4 separate regions of the Homo sapiens genome follow, and regions 1, 2 and 3 are each linked to region 4. Evidence: fine-mapped expression QTL. A gene starts in region 4. Each other region holds a variant in brackets. All regions are shown on one strand. Distances are from middle to middle.

Region 1 (5,154 bases), 190 kb after region 4:
ATTGATTGAATAAATAAGTAATGGCTTTTTTTCTTACTCCATCTGGGGAATTTTTAATCCCTGCAGGAAGCCTCCTTATAGGTCTGAAAGGACAAGTGAAGAAATCTAGAACTCGAAGAGCTATAGAGAGGGTCACCCAACAGGAGCCAAGGCCTTGGGTGGAGGAATGCAATCAACTTTAGGCAACCCTGTGGGGCCATGCTTTAGGGAATAAACACCCAACCTCATTCTTCTTCCACCTGCTAATCTCCTCTTGATGCCTCTCCCTGGCCAAACACAACCCGAAGCCAGAGGGCAAAGCAGCCTGCTAATGTAGTCCATCTGGGTCAGCTTCCTGGGGGCACAGAGCAGGTGGGAGAAGTAGCCAACAGATCTGAGGAGGAAACAAATTATCCAGTATACCCTTGTATCTTTAGCACCAAGGCATGGTGTTATCAGTGAACTGATTAATTCATTAATTTGCCTGATAATTCTTGAGCTTATGTGTTACCTCTTAGAAGCATTCCCTGATGTGCCCAGCCAGAGCTTTTCTCTCTTTGCTCATTACCCCTTTTTATTTTTTATTTTTCTATTTTTTTTTGAGACAGAGTTTCACTCTGTCACCCAGGCTGGAGTGCAGTGGTGCCATTTCAGCTCACTGCAACCTCTGCCTCCTGGGTTCAAGTGATTCTCCTGCCTCAGCCTCCCGAGTAGCTGGGACTACAGGCATGCGCCACCACGCCCAGCTCATTATTATTATTATTATTATTTTGTATTTTTAGTAGAGATGGGGTTTCGCCATGTTGGCCAGGCTGGTCTCAGACTCCTGACCTCAGGTAATCCGCCCACCTCGGTCTCCCAAAATGCTTGGATTATAGGCGTTAGCCACCACACCTGGCCTCATTTCCCCTTTTAAACACTTCCTGAGAGTTACCATAGGCATCTCTCACACATCTGTCTCCTCCCTGAGGCCCCTCTGAGCTCCCTAAAGCAGGGGCTTGTTTGAATTCATCTGAGCACCTCCAAAACTGAGCACAGGAGGCTGACTCAGAGCAGTGTTTAGAATGTGCTCTGAAAGTGAACAGCCATGTGGATGATTCATTGAATTGAGCTGATGCAAAAGACCTTGCCTGAGATGGTCCAGTTGTCAGCCCATAGAAGGGGGGTGGTGGAGCATGTTCTTTGCACAGTGGCTGCGTAGGTGTTAGGGCCTTATGCGAGACTGCAGGGGGACTGTGGGATTGAGGGATTGTGGCTGACTATGGCAGACAATTGAAGTATGACCCAGTCCTGGAGCCCCTTGCTGAGAGTTAGCAGACCACCGTTGTAGTTCTAGCTGCTACATGTGAGAGATAGTCCATCTTGGTAGTTAACAGGATGAGTATTGGAGTCAGGCTACCTGGTCTCAAATCCTGGCTGTGTGACCTCAGGCAAAATCCTTAACCCATCTACAAAATGGGGATGATAAGTTAACCTGGTAAAATTATTATAAGGACTAAGAGAGTTAATTCACATAAGGTTCTAGGGACAGCATTTAGCCTTTACTTGTAGATATATTCATTTACTTACTATAACTTCCAATTTACAGATGGGAAAGCCGAGGCACAGAGAGGTTAAATAAATCATCCATGTTCACACAGCCACTAAGTGGTAGGGCCAGAATTTAAGCACACACCATTTGGCCCTTAGTGACCTTCCTGAACCATTGCACCATTTGGCTTTGCTCCATGTGGGCAAGTCCTTAAAGAATATTATTATAGGACCTGGGAGCTGGAAGAAAGGAGAAGCTCAAAATGGAAAGTTCTATAATAATAAGTATAAGGATAATGGTGTTTTATAGATCAGCAAGATCTGATGGCAAGAACAAATTTCAATTCCCATTTTTCTAAGTGTCTTCTCCTTAAACAAGATAATGCAGATAAATCCATAATAATTAGCTCACTTTCCTTAGACTGGGTCCTGGAAATAAATAAACTAATGAAAAGGCCTTCATCTCTGATGTTACAACCTTGGGCAATGGACCGGTGAGGGTCAGGCACTAATTTTGATGTACAGGATGCGGTGGGAGGAAGAACTGTCTAAGACTTTGCTACCCAAATTCTGCTCCTTAGACCAGCAGTGAAGACTCACCTGGGAGCTTGTTGGAAATGCAGAATCGCTTTCCTCAACCCAGACCTATTGAATCTGAATCTGTATTCAACGTTGAAACAATTTTTAACAAAGCAATTCATATGCACATTAAAATTTGAAACACTATTACTGATGCTTGAGTCCTACATATCCCCACCCCACCCTCTCCCCCCAAGTCAGAAATTCTTAAGTAATTGGCCTGGGCATTAAGATTTTTCAAAACTCCCCATCTTCCAACATGGGGATTCCAAAATGCAGCAAAGTTTGAGAACCGCTGTTCTAAGGAGATGAGCCCTAGAGAAGGGAGCAGCTATAGCTGGCATACTGTCCTCCTGTTGAGACAGACTTCAGACTCTACCCAAGTGCTCTGATTTTAATTGCAGCTGCTCAGGACAGCCTAGTCCTAGTCCAGCAGGAGCCACAAAGTGCCTTCTGCCACTAGCCACAGCCATTTTACAAAATGCCTGGGCCACAAAGCTGCTTTGCCGTGAACCCTGGGCAGAAATTAAGAGTGGAAGGATGAGTATTATAACTTCCTTCTACTACTTCTATTATTCATTATGCCCAGTCAATGGGTCTAATTTTTATTTTTAAAAGCTTCCTTCCTATTGAGGAATTTGGCTGATTCATGGAGATATGTTTGGCAGCATTGAGATAAGTTTTGGGCTGGAATTTAGGAAACCACGAATTCTTCCAGAAAAGGT[C/G]AGAGGAAAAGTTACTTTCTGTTGTGAAATTAAATAATTCAAACCTAAAGCTGGCGGAACTTTAAATTATGTTGAGCCTTGAGAGCAATGCGGCCATGTGACCTGAGTCATATAGCATGCAGCTGCAACTTCTGGTTTTTCCTGTAAATGATTCGGAAGGACCGAATGGTGCCAGAGTTAAGACCTTTCCAGGCCATTACCCCTCCTTATGGAATGTTAAAGGAACCTTCCTTGGCATGCAACAAGCTGTAACCAATCAAATCACTGTAACATGTACTGACCTTGCATGGAAAATGTTGTAACCCTATTACACTTCTCTGTCTCTGCCTTATAAGTGAAACCTTAACTTCTCCACTTTGGAGCACTGACCCCATTCCTTTGGAGTCTATGTTTCCCAAGTGGCTATCCTCAAGCTTTGTGCTGAAATAAACTCAATACTTCATCATATTTTCTGAATTTCATTATTTGAGGGTGACACTTCAATAACACATTAGTGGCGAAAATTTTCTTCACTTCTTTTTTTTGAGGTAGGTTTGATTATGAATTGAACATGGAAATTGGACCTAAGAGAGAGAGAGAGACAGGCCTCACTGAGTGGAGTTAAAGAGCATATAAGTCTACAAAGCCGAGAGATTCAGGGACCAGCCACATATTTGCCACTGAATACATCTGAAAACAGCCAACCTACGTGCTTACTCTGTGCTAACCTTCATTCTAAGGGCTGTGCAAGGATGACTTAATCCTCATAATAGCCCTATAATGTGGAAACTGTTGTCATACCCACTTTACAGAGATTATCATCAAGGCTTAGAAGAGTTACGTGACTTGCTCAGGGTTGCTCGGCTTGTAACTGCTGGAGCTGGCCTTCCAAATCAGGCCTCCCAACGGACTCCCAAGCCCGCTGCCTCTGATATACCACACTTTCTACTGAGAAGTAGCATGCTGGAATTCTAAGAAGGTGTCATTTTAGTTCTGAAACAACGGAGGAAGAATTTTACAAAGAGGCCAGATGGAAAGAGAGTTGGATAAAGGAATAATATGAAAGCACTCTTCAGTCTGGGCAACATTTGGAAGAGGTTACACTGCAACTTAATTTAGGCGAGTCTTTTTCTGGGGACAAGGAAATGTCCTTGTGGTCAACTCAGTAGAATTTCATTTTAACAGAGCCAGTGGATTCTCAGGTTTCTGAGAACAAGCACGCCACTGCTTTTTGTCATTAGCATGTAACTGCTGTTCAAGTCAAACTGGTATTTAGTGACTATGAAGTAGCAAAGGAAATCTGAGACGAAAATGCAAACAAATCTGCTTGCATGCTGCGGTCACCGTCTTTTGCAAGTTTATTCAACCAGTGTTCATTGAGTGGGTGCCTTGTGCCACATCCTGTGCTTCACAGATTACAGTAGCCCACTTATCCTTGAGGAGTGGGCATAGTACCCCAGTCTAGAGATGGGAGCACTGAGGTTCAATGAAGATCTGAAATAGGTCTCAGGCTGACTCCAGAGCTTGTCCTCTTTACTGTATATCCTCTTGACGTTATAGTCCAAGGGATCTCCCTTTATAGTCCAAAGGAATCTTTCTTGGCATGTAACAAGCACAATCTTAAACTTCTTAAGCTTCAGATGTACCTGGGGTGTTGATTAACAGGCAGATTCCTGGGCCCTACTTCAAGTGAATCTGATTCTAGAAGTCTGGAGTTGGAGCCCCAGAAACTGCATGTTCAATCCTAACCCCCAATTTAGTGGTCTGAAGACTGAACTTAGTGAGTGCTATGTCAGTACTTCTCCCAGCCCCAGTCCCTGCCATAAGAAATTCACAGCTCAATCAGAGGAGGCAGACACACAATGGATTATTACAACACAAACGTGTAATCTCTAAAAAGAGGATAGGTCCTAGGATGTTCAGGCATCTGTTGTCCAGGTAGAAAGAAACAGCTGTTGGTGGGAGCAAGGCATGGCACGAAGGGGAGCAGAGCTACAGCCCTTTCCCCAGAACGCCTGTGACAGCAGACACTCCCTTTATAAACTCAGGCTTCATGCCCTTGCAGCTAGCACCACCCCACCCAAACACCACACACACACACACACACACACACACACACACACACACACACACACACAGACACACACACAGACACACACACACACACACACACACACTCTGCACCTCTCATTAATAATCAAGTCCCGTTGGCCAGAGCTTCCAAACGCTCTGAAATCTATGCATTTTTCTCGTCCTCACTGGTATTACTGTAGTGCAATCCACCACCACTCCCCTCTACCATGCAATAGCCTTCTAAAGGCACCCATCCTTGCTCCCCTCTAATTATTTTCTACAGTATCCA
Region 2 (5,154 bases), 43 kb after region 4:
TGGCAAACCACTTGGATGCTTTCAAAGGAGATTTTGAGTTAATGATGCTAATCAAAAATAAGAATATATTTTAATCAGATGTGAAATTCTGTAAGATTAGTATATATATCTTCATTTCTTAATTCTTCTAAAAAAGGAAAAATAAAGCTTAAGTTTGCTTCTTAGAACTTTCTAAATACTATGAAAGTTAATTAAACTCGAGGTTTTAGTGTATTTCTTACTGTAAAGCCATTATGGAACTTGGAAAATACCAGTCACTAATGTGGACCATATTTCCTTTTATGTAGGTTATCAATGGAGATTTGACTTTTACTTTTTTATACTAAATTCCTTAGTTCTTTTGTTGTTATAAAATATAAATAAATATTTTTGAAGATGTACATCTAGTTTGTAATGCGTTTCTTTGGATAATCTGGTTGTACTAAATCTTTAGAGTGATCCACTCTATGGGTTCTTCTCTATATGATAACAATTAATTCTGTCCAGTTGGTTGATCATAAAGAAGGTAGAATTTTCTACCTTTTTACCTTAAACAAATGGTGAGATGCTTATTGTTATAAGACCAGGTAGGCTGCTGCCTGTAATAATTGTTAATTTTTAGGTATAATGTTGACACGTAAAGATACTCTCTGGCTTATACTTGGGAAAACTTTGTTACTTGTGATTCTGAACAACACCCTACTTTTAAAAGTTGTTTTAATGTATGGAATACCCTATTATCCAGTGTATAGGTTCCAAAAGTTAAAATATTCAGTTATATTATATATCAATATAATATATCTTATATATTAATTAATATATATCAATATTATATAATACTATTAATATATTATAAAAGTTAAAATATTCAGTTATATCAACAGAGATTAAGGAACAAAATACAATTCAGTGAAGTCATTGTTTTCATACATTGCTTTAAAAATATTTTCTTCATTTTAAAGATATCTAGATCTATTTGAATATTCATGTTTTCCACTATCAATGATGCTTGTTTGTGTATTTCTTAAGTCATCTAGGGTTGCCATCTGAAAGAAGAGTACCTTTATTTCTAAAGTGTTTTTCTAGTGTAATTAATGCAAACAGACTCATTATCTAGATGTAAGGACTTTAAAGAAATCTGAAAAACAAAAAACAAATGAACTTACCCAGGGCTAGAGTCCATGTTAAGCTTGTAACTAAGCTCAGTTTCATTTGCTGGCCTTCTGATTTAATCCATACTGATTAATATTTTCTGTATGGACAAATGTGGTCCCTTAACCTAAAGATAATTTATGAATAAACTCTGATATTCTCCCACGTTGTAAATCTTCTGGTATTTTCTTCATTGTAATAAAAAATATCACGCTGTAGTAACTAATTCTTGCCCCACATCCTTTTTCTCCCCTTTAGAAAAATTGGAAGCTCCACCACCCACCCCAGGACAGCTGAGATATGGTAATGGTTCTATAATTGTTAAATATATGTTCATCTGTCTTTTGGCCTTGAAATAACTGTATCATTCATTGATAGCACAGAAGAGTCAGTAAATTAAATCTTTCCAGATAGAGTGGATTATCCTGTTCATTATATGAAGCACAAAGTTTATAAACTTGGCTAAGGATGTAACACAATATTGTAAAATATCTAATATTGTTAAAAATATCTAATATTATTAAAATATTGTTGCCATTTAGAAATAGAATTATTTTTATGATAGAAGTTTTCTTAATTTCTAGGAAAAAGGATGTATTTACTTTAGTTTGAATTTAAGTTGGGTAAATGCAGAACTAGAATTTCTAGGCCCAAGGCGAGATACAACTGTTCTCTGGTAGAGAAAATGTTTCCGGCTGGCTGTTTGTAAGAATGAAAAGAATAAAGTTTATTTAAAACTACGTGAAGAAGGACCTTATTACAATGCTGCTAGTGTTCTTTCTTTTCTCTATTATGATAGGAATAAATATTCAAGAATATACCAAAATAATGTAAAACAAGTTGGGATGTTATTATAAAGATGGAAGAAGTGAATTATTTAACAGTATAGTGAATTAGAGTAGGTTGTAAATTAAAGCTAAATATGAAACGTGATTTGCTAACAACTGGCAAGTTATAGAATAGTGTTTCTGAGAGTAAATTGAAGAAGCCACAAATTAGTAGGAGATCATTATATACTAGAGAGCAAATTTATATAATTTTTAAAAAAACCTAATGGCCAGTTATTTTTTCTCTGACAGGTAGAATGTAATTTATATTAGAGATTAGTAACTTTCCTCAAATACCAAAACAATTTAAAAATTCTTTAACACTTGTGTTCCCAAGTAATTTATGATTCTCCCACCTTAGATTCATACAATCTATAGTTCATAATACTGTATACTATTATCATTTTTTGTAGGTGGTATTGAAATTTACTGTTTGTATGGCTGTGTTATCATACCTAAACCCCTTTAGGGCTGGGAACCAAGTCTTATTTATCTTTGTATCTCAGGTGCCCAGTGGAGTGCTCTGTACATGTTTATTTAACTTTTTGAAAAACTATATTTTTTCCTTTTAGTTAAAATAAATTATAATTTTTAGGACATATTTATATAGGTATAAACACTAAAAACATACATCGTATAGTTCAAAGTGATTGTTTGTAACAGAGTGCCTTGGTTTTACTGACCAAGTTTTTACTAAGATAGCAATTAGTGTAATCTTAACTTAATGGGCTTATCACCTAATTTTAAGATATTTGTAACTGGCCAGTTTTAGAGATGCTATTAAAAGAATCCCAAAATGCTAATTAATCCTAACCAGTTTCATCATTATTTTTCAGTACTTAAGTAGCTTTCTCTTCACTGTAAATGTTTTATTTAGTGATTTTTTAGAATTTCATTATACTCTTCTAACCTGTTAAATTTGTAATGTGTATTGGTTCTGGAAGCTGCTTTTTATAAAATTTTGAGTGTTCAGTAAATAACCAGATTTAGGCAATAAGTGAAAAAACTAAGGCTAGACTCTTTAATTGAAAAAAAATCCCATTTTATTAATGTTTTACTTGATTTTTACAACCTTTAATAACAAATAATATTCTTTGTAATTAAAAATGT[TGTC/C]CTTGATCTTGGACATTTTTACTTAAAACAAGACGAAATTTTAAATGACCTATTTTATACCTATTATGTACTGGTTTATATAATATTGTATAGCTATAATAATATTGAATATAATAGTATTCTTATACTGTATATAGTATTGTCCCGTGGTCTTAGTCATTTATAGTGGTTGTGGGTAGAAGTGCTTTTTTTTGAGTGCTTATTAGCCTTTCCTGCTAGGTGCAGAGCTCAATATAGTAATATCGAATTTTTATAACTTCTGGATTATATTTCAATTATACTTTCTGTGGAGATAACTGCATTAAAAGAAAAAAAGACTCTAAAAATTAATAGACACATATAACCAGTTGGTTTAAGGGATTATTTTTTTGGACGTAGTACAAAACTCAGCATTTTAATGTTTGTTGAGAAAAGTCCTCAGTTGAACGGATGTTCACTATACCTTGGCAATTTTATAGATTAATTAGAATAAAGTCTTTTACCTATTCCCAGCTTTTAATCTATTTCACAGTCTGCCTTCAATTCTCCCAATCTGGAATTCTCTTCCTTTCCAGGTTAGTGGTCTTCAACTTAATGAAATAATATTTTTTGAGCATCTACCATGCCCTCAATATTCTGCTGAAGATGTAAATATGAAAGAAATGAGAATAAATGTATAAAAAATATGTAGGTATTAGTTCTTCCTAGTTACAATTTTTTTTTTTTTTTAAGATGGAGTCTTGCTCTGTTGCCAGGCTAGAGTTCAGTGGTGCAATCTTAGCTCACTGCAACCTCTGCTGCCTGGGTTCAAGTGATTCTCCTGCCTCAGCCTCCCAAGTAGCTGGGACTACAGGCACGCACCACCACACCCAGCTAATTTTTGTATTTTTAGTAGTGATGGGGTTTCACCATATTGGCCAGGATGGTCTCGATCTCTTGACCTCATGATCCGCCCGCCTCAGCCTCCCAAAGTGCTAGGATTACAGGCGTGACCTAGTTACACTTCTAATATCTCAGATCATTGAATTTATATACCCAATAGATGAAGTAAGGTGTGTTTTTGGTAGCAAGAGGTGAAGTGATAGTTTGATTTAAATCAAATATTGATTGTTTATAGTTTGCAATAGCATTTGGGAATATTGATGAATTTTGAGGGGGGAAAAAGACTGCACATAGATGAGGTAATATAGATGAGATAATCACCTTTTTCTAACATTTCTTTAAAAAAATTAGTTAGTAAAAGCACCCAAATAACTTTTCTGACATTTGATTTAGGACATTTTCATTATTTCTAATACAGAAATCGATTTTATAATATCAGACTTTAGTCATAATAGAAAAAGAGATTAATGTCAGTAGCAATCAGGTAAAATGTGGTACTCATATATGTTTACTAATTTGTTCTGTTAATTGTATGTATATATTTGTGTGTGTGTGTGTGTGTGTGTGTGTGTGTGTGTTACCAGTAAGAAAACACAAAAGTCTAACACAGTTATTTTTACATGTTTTATACTTTTTCTGGTTTGTTTTGTTTTTTCCCAATATAGTTTCTACTTATAGCAGTAGCAGCATCTATTGGCTCTGGAAAATGAGAATCAAATTCTAGAGATTATCAAGTCTGTTTAGGATACTTTGATCATATCATCTGTTTTTGTCATTCTAAGTTATAGAAATCTTAAAATATATTTTTCTGTTTTTGATGTTTTTCAGTATTCATCCACAATGCGATACCTTTCATAGGGTTTGGCTTTTTGGATAATGCAATTATGATTGTTGCTGTAAGTTCTTTCTCTCACTGCTTCTATTTTGAGTTCATAAATTAATGTGGTCTACATTTTCCTAATAATTTTTCTATTGTGATTATAAAGTTTTAATATCATAATGAACAAGGATATTTTTTACTATATCTCAGACTATAGCTCAATTTTAATTAAGCTATATTTAATATTTATTAATCATTAAGACTTTAGGTAAAGCATTTAGACAAATAGACTTTTGGTAGAGCATTCAGACAGAACATTAAAGGCCTATATTGTCCTATTCTAATTTCAACATTCTTAATAAAGAAAAATAATATGTAAAATGTTCTGATGTTCTTTAATGG
Region 3 (5,154 bases), 91 kb after region 4:
CCATCTCAGCATCTCAGCGGAGCCCAGCCCCCATCCAACTCACACTGAATTCAGCCAATTAGTGATCATCATCAAGATCAGCAGAAACCTTATCCAACTAAGCCCAGTCTGAATATCAGAGAGTGAGCAAATACAAAGGTTGTTGTTTTAAGCCATTAAATGTTGGGATGGTTTGTTACACAGTAATAGATAAGTGAAATAGACCCAATTAAAATAGTTGATCCATAAGCATATAACAAAACTCATTATAACAATATCTCAAAAGCATAAGAAGAAAATTCTTTATGGAAAATAAACCTTTGGTTTCACTGAAGTTAATTGACTAAATTAACTCAACCACAATTTGAGCATAAATCACAATTGAAAAGACTGACTCGGCAGAGTAAATGGAAAAGGCTCAAAGAGCCGACTATATTTAGCATCTACTTGGGTTTGGTGTGGGATGCAAGTGAGTTTTAAAATCAGGAAAAGGAAAAAACCATCAAGTCAGAGTAGAGCCTAGAGATTTGTTTATGCTTTCTCATGCCAGAAACTTGAGATCGCTTTCCTTCTTTGAGGAAGAAAAGTATGATTTGTAATTTTGCACAGCTGAGAAGAAATGTTTCCGCTATCCCTCCAAACCTCACTCCCTGCCTTCCAGCCACATACAGAACCAATGCAGCTCCTCAAATGAGCCTCTCTGCTTTGTTCATGTTATTCTTCCTGCTTGTGTTCTGTTTCCCCATCCATCCATTAACTGCTAAACTTCACCCACTTCACCCACTTGGAAAATGAGGTGAAGCTTCCACTTGGGGAAAATCTTTCTGACAACTGTCCCTCTGTGCCCTCAAGTAGGCTAATCACCCCTGCCTTGGGACACCACTGTACTTTGTTTTCACCTGTATTCTTTGGCTGTACAATTATTAGGATGGTTTGTTTGCTTGTCCTTTACTCCTCCTTGACCATAAATTTCTACTAGAGACAGGAAGAAATCCTACTGAGATAAGTATACGTGGCATTTATTACATGCTTATAATGTGGCCTAACATCAGTGGTTTTCAAAGTTTTGGTTGTATCAAGGGTGCCTATTAAAAATGCGTATTTTTAGCTGGGTGTGGGGACTCACGCCTGTCATCCCAGCACTTTGGGAGGCCAAGGGGGGCGGATCACCTGAGGTCAGGAGTTCGAGATCATCCTGGCCAACCAGGTGAAACCCTATCTCCACCAAAAATACAAAAATTAGCCAGGCGTGGTGGTGGGCACCTGTAATCCCAGCTACTTGGGAGACTGAGGCAGGAGAATGGCTTGAACCTGGGAGGTGGAGGTTGCAGTGAGCTGAGATTGCGCCATTGCAGTCCAGCCTGGGCGACAGAGTGAGTCTCCGTCTCAAAAAAAAAAAAAAAAAAAAAAAGCATATTTTCAACAACCAGCCCCAGATAGCCTCATTCATTTGGGGCTGGGAGATCTGCATTTTTAACAGGCACCTAGATACAATAATTGGTCAGGCAACTCTATCTTACAAAATATGGGCCTCAGGACCTCCTGTCTTCTCTTGCCTCTCTCTGGCTGCCTAACCTGGGCTATTTCCCTACAGTAAAGGAAAAACCAAGGAAGATAACTGGGTGAAACTCAAATCAGGTAAACACACTTTTAAAGTTCTGACCTGGAAGTTGAAGGTGCAGGCTAAAATAATAATTATTCATCAATGGTATTTATTTCCATTTTTCCTGACTTCCTTTTCCACCACTAGTCAAGAACCGGCCATATTTAAAATTATGCTGGTTGACATTTTCTCAAGGCACCCTTTGAATAACCCTTCAAAGCCAGAAAAATTTATGTATTTGGAAATTAAATTGTGATGAGCTTGTCTGTCAGCTGCATGATGTTTCCCCACTCATTCTGTTCTGGGTGATAAATCCATAATCACTGAAGTCAAGAGCTGTTCATTACAT[A/G]TATTCATATAACCTGGTCCGAGGCCCAGACTATCTGAATTGGCAGTAGCAATACCAGCTACTATTTATTTACCTCTTGCTTTGTGCTGTGGCTGGGATCAGTGTTTTACATCATTTTGTTCTTTAATCCGTATCAACACCTTTGAGATAGGTTTTAGAGGTAAGAAAGGTGGGGCTCAGAGAAATTTAAAACAACTCATCCAAAGGGCAAGATGAGGTAGGATGAAAAGATATGTCTGTTTCCCTCAGCACCGGAATTCCGTACTACACCGTGGGCCAGCTCCTTAGAGCCTGCCTGGGCCCGTGGCTAGGTGGTATCAGGGCAGAACTTAAGACCCACGATTCCTGGCCCCCAGCATAATTTTTTTTTATGACCTCACACATGGGGCAAAAGGAAAGCCGAAAACATTAATAATTAATTCTGGTAAAAAGAGAGGGTGGTGATATGGTTTGGCTGTGTCCCCTCCCAAATCTCATCTTGAATTGTAGTTTCCATAATCCCCACATGTCCTGGGAGGGACCAGGAGGAGAAAACTGAATCATGGGGCAGTTTCCCCCATTTTGCCGTCCTGTTCTCGTGATAGTGAGCGAGTTCTCACAAGAGCTGATGGTTTTTATAAGGGGCATTCCCTGCCCAGTGCCCCCGCCCCACCACCTTCGCTCTGCGTTATTTTCCTGCCATCATGTGAAGAAGGACATATTTACTTCCCCTTCTGCCATGACTGTAAGTTTCCTGAGGCTTGCCCAGACATGCGGAACTGTGAATCAATTAAACATCTTTCCTTTATAAATTACCCAGTCTCGAGCAGTTCTTTATTGCATTGTGAGAATGGACTAATACAGGTGGGTTGGGATTTTCCTTTACTTGTTCGGATCATTGGGAAATTTTTGATTACCAAAAGGCTAAATTATGATGTCATATGTGGCCTTGGAACAGATTATCTGGGCCTTGCCCTGTTTCCACTAACTGCTGTTTCTCTAACTTTGTGGAAAATGCTAAGACAGTTACCAATTCTTCTTGGTCCATTTTGAAGATTTGCTAAACCTCTAAAAGCCTTGTGAGACCCCTTCAGCCACTGCGGAGCTTTTTAATGGAGAACAGGAAAGGATCGTAACTAGGCCACAGGGGGGTATTTTAGTCCGAGAGCAGGCTGGTTTTATGAAAGTCCAGGCTCCCAGCAGCTTTTGTGAATATTAACGTATAAACCAGGGCAGAAAGTGGCGTCAGCAGTGCCCTGAGCAGGAAAGACTGTGGCTTTATGTAGCAGAGGCATGTCCAGGTCAGCAGCAGGGACCTGAATTCCAGGACTCTCAGCTCTGCCTGGAACTTGTGAGATCTTGGGTCAAGCTCTCAATCCGTGTGGGCCTGGTTTTTTGTTTTAAATTCTTCTAATACTACCTCTCCTGTTGGTGAACGAGGGAAATGGACATGAATGTCTGTGAAAGAACTTATCATAGGTAAGCTGTTCTGAGTGGCGCTCCATCAGCCATCTTTACTGGCTGTTTGTGGTTTTCCAACAAAACATCATAGCTTATGTGGTTAAGCAGTGTCGTGTTCACAGCAGGAATGCAACCAGCATTTGGTGGAATTGTACTGCTGAATATTTATAACTGAAAACCTCAAAGAAGAGTCCACCTCACAGATGTCACCCTTATTGCTTGCATTCCAACTATTTAAGAGCTAACCCGTTGTGCTAGTTTGAGATGACTGTTGCTTAAAGTGTGGGGTGCATTTCACTGTGATAAGCAGGATGCTTTGAAATGTCATGTAGACAAACATTTTTATTAATAATTAGGTATTTTTCACTGTGCATTTAAACAAGGTTCATTTGGAAAAGTAAATAAAAATGGACTCAACTAAAGTGTATGAAGCAAGTATTAATACAGGTGTTAGAAGGATATGACAAAATCATGCAGGTGATACATCAATGAGTATAGATTAGGATATACTCCTAGAATATAAGTCCATAACTTGTTAAGCAAAACTCATGGGGCCAGATGAGTTTCATAATTCAGAATATCTCATGCAGTATTTGACACCCCCAGAGGTAACTGAGACAACATTCTCAAGTCAAACACGTTATTATTTCTGCAGTAAAACTGATGAATATTCATCATAAGTGGGATAAAGTCTATAAATGGACTCATCAATTCAGTACAAGTTTTGCAGCCAAATGAATTACAAAAAAATATTGTTTCTCAGATGCTTTTGCATTTTGGAATTGTAGATAAGAGAGATTTTGTTGTCGTTGTTTTGGTTTTTGAGACAAGGTCTGGCTCTATCACCCAGGCTGGAGTACAGTGGTGCCATCTTGGCTCACAGCAACCTCCGCCTCCTGGGCTCAAGCGATCCTCCCACCTCAGCCTCCCAAGCAGCTGGGACTACAGGTGTGCCCCACCACACCCGGCTAATTTTTGTATTTTTTGTAGAACAGGTTTTCACCATGTTGCCTAGGCTGATCTCAAACTTGAGATCTCAAGTGATCCACCCACCTTGACTTCCCAAGGTGCTAGGATTACAGGTGTGAGCCACTGCACCTGGCCAGATAACAGATTTTTAACCTGTAGTAAAATAGGCCAAGAGGAAAAACAAGCAAATTCAAGAACCTTAGGCCTGAGCCATACTGTATAGTATGGCTATACCCCCAAACATTCTCCCTCTCATCATCTGATTTGTGAGGTAGGTCCTCCATATTACAGATGAGGAATTTGAGGCTTACAGAGGGTAGGTGACTTAGCCAAGATCACACAGCTGGTAACCAACAGGGCCAGAATTAGGATCCAAGATTAGAATCCAAGTCCTGTGCCTCCAGATATTTGATCTTTTTATACTGTAATCCATACATCATATAAGGCCTGAAGAGGCAGAGGCTGAATTCTTGAACATGTTCCCTGAGTGCAGATATGCTTTCCCCCAGGAAGGTGTCTTACCTGACTCTGTCATTTCCACCGAGGGGGGCTCTGGAGGGGAAGGATGGGAGTGGAAGATATAACCTTGGCCTTTTAATGTTGAGCTACGGATGTATCCAAGGTGCTTGGATCAATCTCTTCAGACAGTGCATGAAACCCAACTGAAATGCTTGTGACAGTCCAGTGGTATTTCAGGGAACCATTGCCTGTTTCTTCCAGAAATTCTAATAAGAATGGACATTTATTGAGCACCTGCTATATGCCAGACATTCCTTCCTCTAACAGTTTAGGGGTGTTCTTACCATTTCCCTCC
Region 4 (5,154 bases):
TTGAGCTACCAGTCAGCCATGTCAGTGAGCCATCTTAGCTATTCAGCCCAGCTGAACTTTCAAATGACAGCAGTTGTGTTGAAATCTGATTGATACTACATAAACGACTCCAATAAAATAACTGTCCAAGTAAGTTCTTCCCCAATTTCTGAGCCTCAAAATTAAGAGCAAAATAAATTGGCTAATTAAACTACTAAGTTTTGGCATAATGTGTCTACCCAAAGAGCAGCAATAATAACCAGAAGAGTTTACCAACCAACATAAAACAGAGTGAGAAGCAAGGGGAAAGAGATAGGGTAGATTAATAAGCTTAGGATAGGCTGAAGGACCATAGCACCTAAATTCTGTTTTATGCAATGTTCTCATGTCTTATCCCTCTCCACCATCCAGTCTTCTCAGCACATAGTGTGGCTACAAGGACCAGACTGGAGAGTAAGTAAGGTGACTCAACAGACTGAAGGGGCCTGGGCTCAACATATGTCTGTTCTGTTACAGAGCTGAGGGGCAAGTGTGTCTGGTTATAATGGTAGCTGGCATTAGTTGGCTTTGTAGCTGGGGGTTTATCTGCTTTTCTTGGGAAGAGATTACATGAGGCCATAATAGCGTTACAATGGGTGTTACCAGTAGGTATGCAATTTAGGGATGACATGGCTGTAAATCTGAAGATAGTATGATCTGTACCTTATTAATACTTAAAAGTCCACTTTGTCTTTCTGCCTCTATCTAAAGCAGCATTTTCATTTGTTCCATCCTTTTTATCTATGTTCAACCCATATCCATTCATTCTATGTGTAACCTTTCTCATAAGTGACTTGCTTCTACATTTTAGTTTCTCTTGTTTTATAATAGAATTAAATATTCTATAGTAATATAGCAAAAGCATTACAGCAAACCCCAATGAGCAAACATGTATCATATCACGTTTATGATGTCCTCCTATTTATTGACCAAAACAAGTCAAATAGCCAAGCCCACAGTCAATGTAGAGGTGGACCACACAACGGAGCGGATAATAGAAGGTGTAGTTCATTGGGGATCACTACTATAACAATCTAATACTAACACATAGTTAGGAGACGGTTGATCCAGGGATCGAACTTTCCACAGTCTGTCTCTGGAGGCTACACACTAAACTACTATTCTGGAGGTGGTTGGGAATGGGTTCTTACTGAAGAACTTTTTTCAAACCTCACTTCCCAGGTCTGGGGCCTGTGATCCACCCCAGTGAATCAGAATATCTTGGGGGTAGGAAATTGTGGGGGGGATGGGGTGGTACTCCCATGAGCCTGAGACTGAAATAGCTCTGCAGAGGATTCCAGTGCACACTAGGGAATGAAGGGGGTTTCAAAGACAAGGAAGATATACTTTATGCACTCAAAAAGCTTTCATTTCCACAGAGAGCATTCTTAATTGTTGTTATTACATCACAGAGGCATCACCTTGGAATTTAAAAAAGAAGCGATTCCTTTCAATGTTTAAGAGACATCAGTGTTTCTCAAGCTTTCGTGTGTGTTATTACTGGAGGGCTTGTTAAAACCCACATGACTGGGTCCAATGTCTACGTTCTGATTCAGGAGGTGTGAAGTGGGGTCCACTATTTCTCACGTCTAAAAAGCTCTGGGACACACTTTGAGAACCAGAGTTAGAGAAGTAGGAGGCTTTAGTGGTAACAATCCTCCATTATTCAGTTTAATATTCTACTTACATGTAGCACATTTACTACCTACAAGTTTCCGGGCTGAGTGCAGCACTGTTTATGATAAGGATGGGATTTAGATCTTGATTACGCTCCAGCAGATTTATTAAGTGGATTTATTCTCTAAGGGTGCCTAAGCGTCATTAGACAGGTTCAGATAAAGCAGAGATCTCCTCCCTTAGAAGAGATTAGGGACAGCTTAATGAAGTAGGAGACCTTTCACCTGGGCCTTGAAAGATGCCTAGGACCTGGATCAGGGGAAATCGTGGACAATCAAATTATTCTTCCCGCTTTAGCACAGAGACAAAAAAATCACAAGCAACCACTAGGAAAGGTCTATGACATTCTTGCCTCTGCCTCTAGCATTAACAATTTGCATGCCAGCTGCTGGAATCTGAACGGGGAGGACTGTTCTCGTGTCAAGGGCTCAGTCTCAGACCCTCCTTGGGCAGGGGTGGAACTGGCTTCGCTTTCTCTTTGGGGCGCCCAGAGCGACTGCATTAGAGCCGGCCTGCTCGGCCGAAGCGGCGGTGGGCGCTGACTTGGCGAAGGGCGCAGCTGGGGCGCTTCGTTCCGGAGCAGAGCGCCGTGATCCCGTCGGGGCTGGGGTGGCAGCGCAGCTCTCCGCCTGTCCAGAGCGGGGCCGCACGCCGGGGCACCTTTCAGAACAAGCTCCAGATGTGGCCCCAGGTTGGGGGCCGGGTGGCAGCTGTACTACCCTGGCGGGCGAGGGGTCCAGAGCTCGTTTTCCCTATTCCGATCTGTAGGTTTAACGCCAGCACAGGGTGGCGCACCCTACCTCCTTCCACCTTCACGCACCAGCGCGGGAGGGGACGCGTGTGCACGCTCCTCCCCTAGGAGGGAGGGCGGCCCGAGAGCCTGCAGACTGCGCCTGCGCAGCCTCGCTCACACACCTCCCCGCCCCCCCGCACCTCCTTCCCCTTTCGCCCCGCCCCGTTCCCACTTCTGCTGCCGCTAGGGGTAGCGGCGGCGGCGGCGGCTGCGGCTCGGGAGCGCGGCTGCTTTGAGGGCTCGGGAACCTTACAGAGTGGGGACGTGGGGAGGCTAGAGGGTGAGAAAGCTGGCGGGAGAGTAGGGCGGCGCTGGAGGAGGGCGGTGCGTGGCTGACTCATCCTCTGGAAGATCAGACTGACAGAGACACACACTAGCCCGCCCCGCCCGCCCGCGCCGCTCCTCCTCAGCCGGGAGGCGCCCGCCCGCACCGACCGCCCGCCCTCTCCGGGCGCTGTCCGGGCCCGGCCGTCTCAGAGAAAGTTTTTCCCATCGGAGGGGCGGGAGCCGCCGCGGGCCTTTTGGAAAGGAAGTGGGGACGGAACAGGAGGCGAGAGCCGCGCGGGCCCGCGGAGTGCATGGTGCCCGGCGCCTCGGCTGCCTGGCAGGAGGACCTCGGGGCGGGGTCGAGCTGAGCCCAGCTCCTTCTCGCCTCAGCCGCGCCAGAAACCGCCTTGCCGGACGGCCGCGGGGGTCCCAGCTCCTCAGCTCGCCATGTCCCGGCTGCTGCCGCTGCTGAGGAGCCGGACCGCGCGCAGCCTGAGGCCGGGCCCGGCCGCCGCCGCCGCGCCCCGCCCGCCGTCCTGGTGCTGCTGCGGGCGGGGGCTGCTGGCGCTCGCGCCCCCCGGCGGCTTGCCGGGCGGCCCCAGGCGGCTGGGCACGCACCCCAAGAAGGAGCCCATGGAGGCGCTGAACACGGCGCAGGGCGCGCGCGACTTCATCTACAGCCTGCACTCCACGGAGAGGAGCTGCCTGCTCAAAGAGCTGCACCGCTTCGAGTCTATTGCCATTGCCCAAGGTAAGGGGGGCAGGTGGGGGGCGAGCCCGGGGGCCCCGACGCCCTCCTCTTCTCGCCAGCCCACCGGGAGCCCGCTGCGGCCCTGGATCTTGGACCCCCGCCGCCGCCCCCCTTCCGCCCCCCTCGCCTGTCTGGCCCCACGCCTGGGACGGCTGGGGGCGGGGAGACTTTCCGCCGCCCGAGTTTCCCCCAGGCAGGTAGGACGGGCGCGGGTCGTGCCAGGCAGCCGAGGCCAGCGCTAGCTACTTCCTCCCCAGCCTCCGAATCCGGAGCTTCGGCCTAAAATGCCAGTTAACGCTGTTGGGATTGAGTTTTGATTTGCCCCGTGCCTCCCCTCCCCAGCCCTCCTGTCCCTTAGCCCTTGCTGCTTTCTTGCGAGCGTGCACCCGTGCAGGTGGCATGCTGTGCCTGCTCCGAGAAAGTGCTGCAAACCCGCCTGGCAGGAAGAAACTTTTTGAACGGTTATCAAATGAAGACGTATGGGTGGGTAGCCAAAAGAAGGGGTGTAGCTTCGAAAGTCAGGGATGCTCATAGCTGCTTGTTTCCACACATGTCTGATTGCGTTAATTTCAGCAGCCAAAGGAAACATTTTCTCCAGAAATGGAAAGACAGATTCAAGTTAAACTCCAGTTTTGGTTTTTCCCAGAGGTTGAAAGAATGAAATAAATAAGGAGGTATATTTTTTGGAAATCTGTGGCTCTGTAGTAAAAGTCAGACTGATGCTCAAAAGTAATTGGGAATGATGAAAGCAAAACGATTTTTAAACTAGCATGTTAAAATAGGATATTTCTAAAAGGAGTCCAGAATGGGGTAGGGCAGAATTTGAGTCTAGGTGAAAAAGCTAAAAGTTCAGAAAATAAAAAGGATGAAAGGAGCAAACGACTAAAATGGATGTCTTAAAATATTTCTGCCACTTAAATACAGTTATGTAAACAAAACACATTGCTTCAGTTTGTATTACATTCTGATGTGTTTGAAAGTTTTAAAAAAGTTTACTCTCCTCTCTAAACTTGGTAGGTACATAAACATCTCATAGATTCCAAAGTGTAGAGCACATTGATTCGGATCATGCCATTTGATTTGCCAGACTTGAAAGTATATCTTTAGCTGATGTGCAGGAATGGAGGAAAGAATTATCTACCTCATGTAAGCAGGACGTTATCTGTACTACTTCAGAAACTTGTTTTAGTTGTGGCTTTTAATCAGATGTTTTCCCCCTCAGTTCAGGAAATTGTGGACCAATTTATAGTGGATGATTGATTCCAGACATTGTTTACCCACAGTGCTTTTACAGGAAAATGTAACGTCCGATCAATTCCGTTATTCAATGTGTAATCATGATGTTATATGCAATCATAATGAAACACTAGCACATTTGTAATCTATGTGTGCACTCAGTATGCAGTTTAAAAATAGTCAATTCTGAAAATATGCTCCTTGGAAAAATAATATAGTCAGTCATGTACTAGAACATTAACTTTTGAATCTTTCTGCACTGACAAGACTATTTGAACACACATTTTACCTTTTCCAAGTAATTTCTTGGAAATTCTGCATTGTCAACAAGTTACAAGATTGGAGGGCCCTATGAATATAGTTTTGTGGCAGTTCTTGAAAAACATGTCCTGCAAGGTGACTGAATAATTTT

Alleles and levels. Alleles are on the strand shown, and positions count from the first base shown. SD is a standard deviation of normalised expression in the study named. Not every link is listed here.
In carriers of allele C in region 1, the expression in fibroblasts of the gene that starts at base 2,659 in region 4 tends to be higher than with G alone (large effect, 1.1 SD a copy in GTEx).

Evidence for each region.
Region 1: its variant is fine-mapped to the expression of TMEM65 in fibroblasts (GTEx, PIP above 0.99).
Region 2: its variant is fine-mapped to the expression of TMEM65 in whole blood (TOPMed, PIP above 0.99).
Region 3: its variant is fine-mapped to the expression of TMEM65 in monocytes after LPS (Quach 2016, PIP 0.95).

The regions. Positions count from the first base shown.
Region 1 is chr8:124,179,465-124,184,618 of GRCh38, reverse strand. No RefSeq gene overlaps it. Among named protein-coding and RNA genes, the nearest start is that of FER1L6-AS2, 11 kb to the right of the region's middle. The variant C/G (reference allele first, on the strand shown) is at 2,814.
Region 2 is chr8:124,327,028-124,332,181 of GRCh38, reverse strand. TMEM65 (transmembrane protein 65) reads left to right here. Exons shown (of 7, transcript NM_194291.3): 2 at 1,390-1,434; 3 at 4,761-4,828. Among named protein-coding and RNA genes, the nearest start is that of TMEM65, 43 kb to the left of the region's middle. The variant TGTC/C (reference allele first, on the strand shown) is at 3,069.
Region 3 is chr8:124,278,770-124,283,923 of GRCh38, reverse strand. No RefSeq gene overlaps it. Among named protein-coding and RNA genes, the nearest start is that of TMEM65, 91 kb to the left of the region's middle. The variant A/G (reference allele first, on the strand shown) is at 1,932.
Region 4 is chr8:124,370,206-124,375,359 of GRCh38, reverse strand. TMEM65 (transmembrane protein 65) reads left to right here and starts at 2,659. Exons shown (of 7, transcript NM_194291.3): 1 at 2,659-3,506. The coding sequence starts at 3,203. RefSeq lists enhancers at 2,097-2,286, 2,498-2,792 and silencers at 2,517-2,746, 2,867-3,136, 3,267-3,396, 3,447-3,576, 3,587-3,636.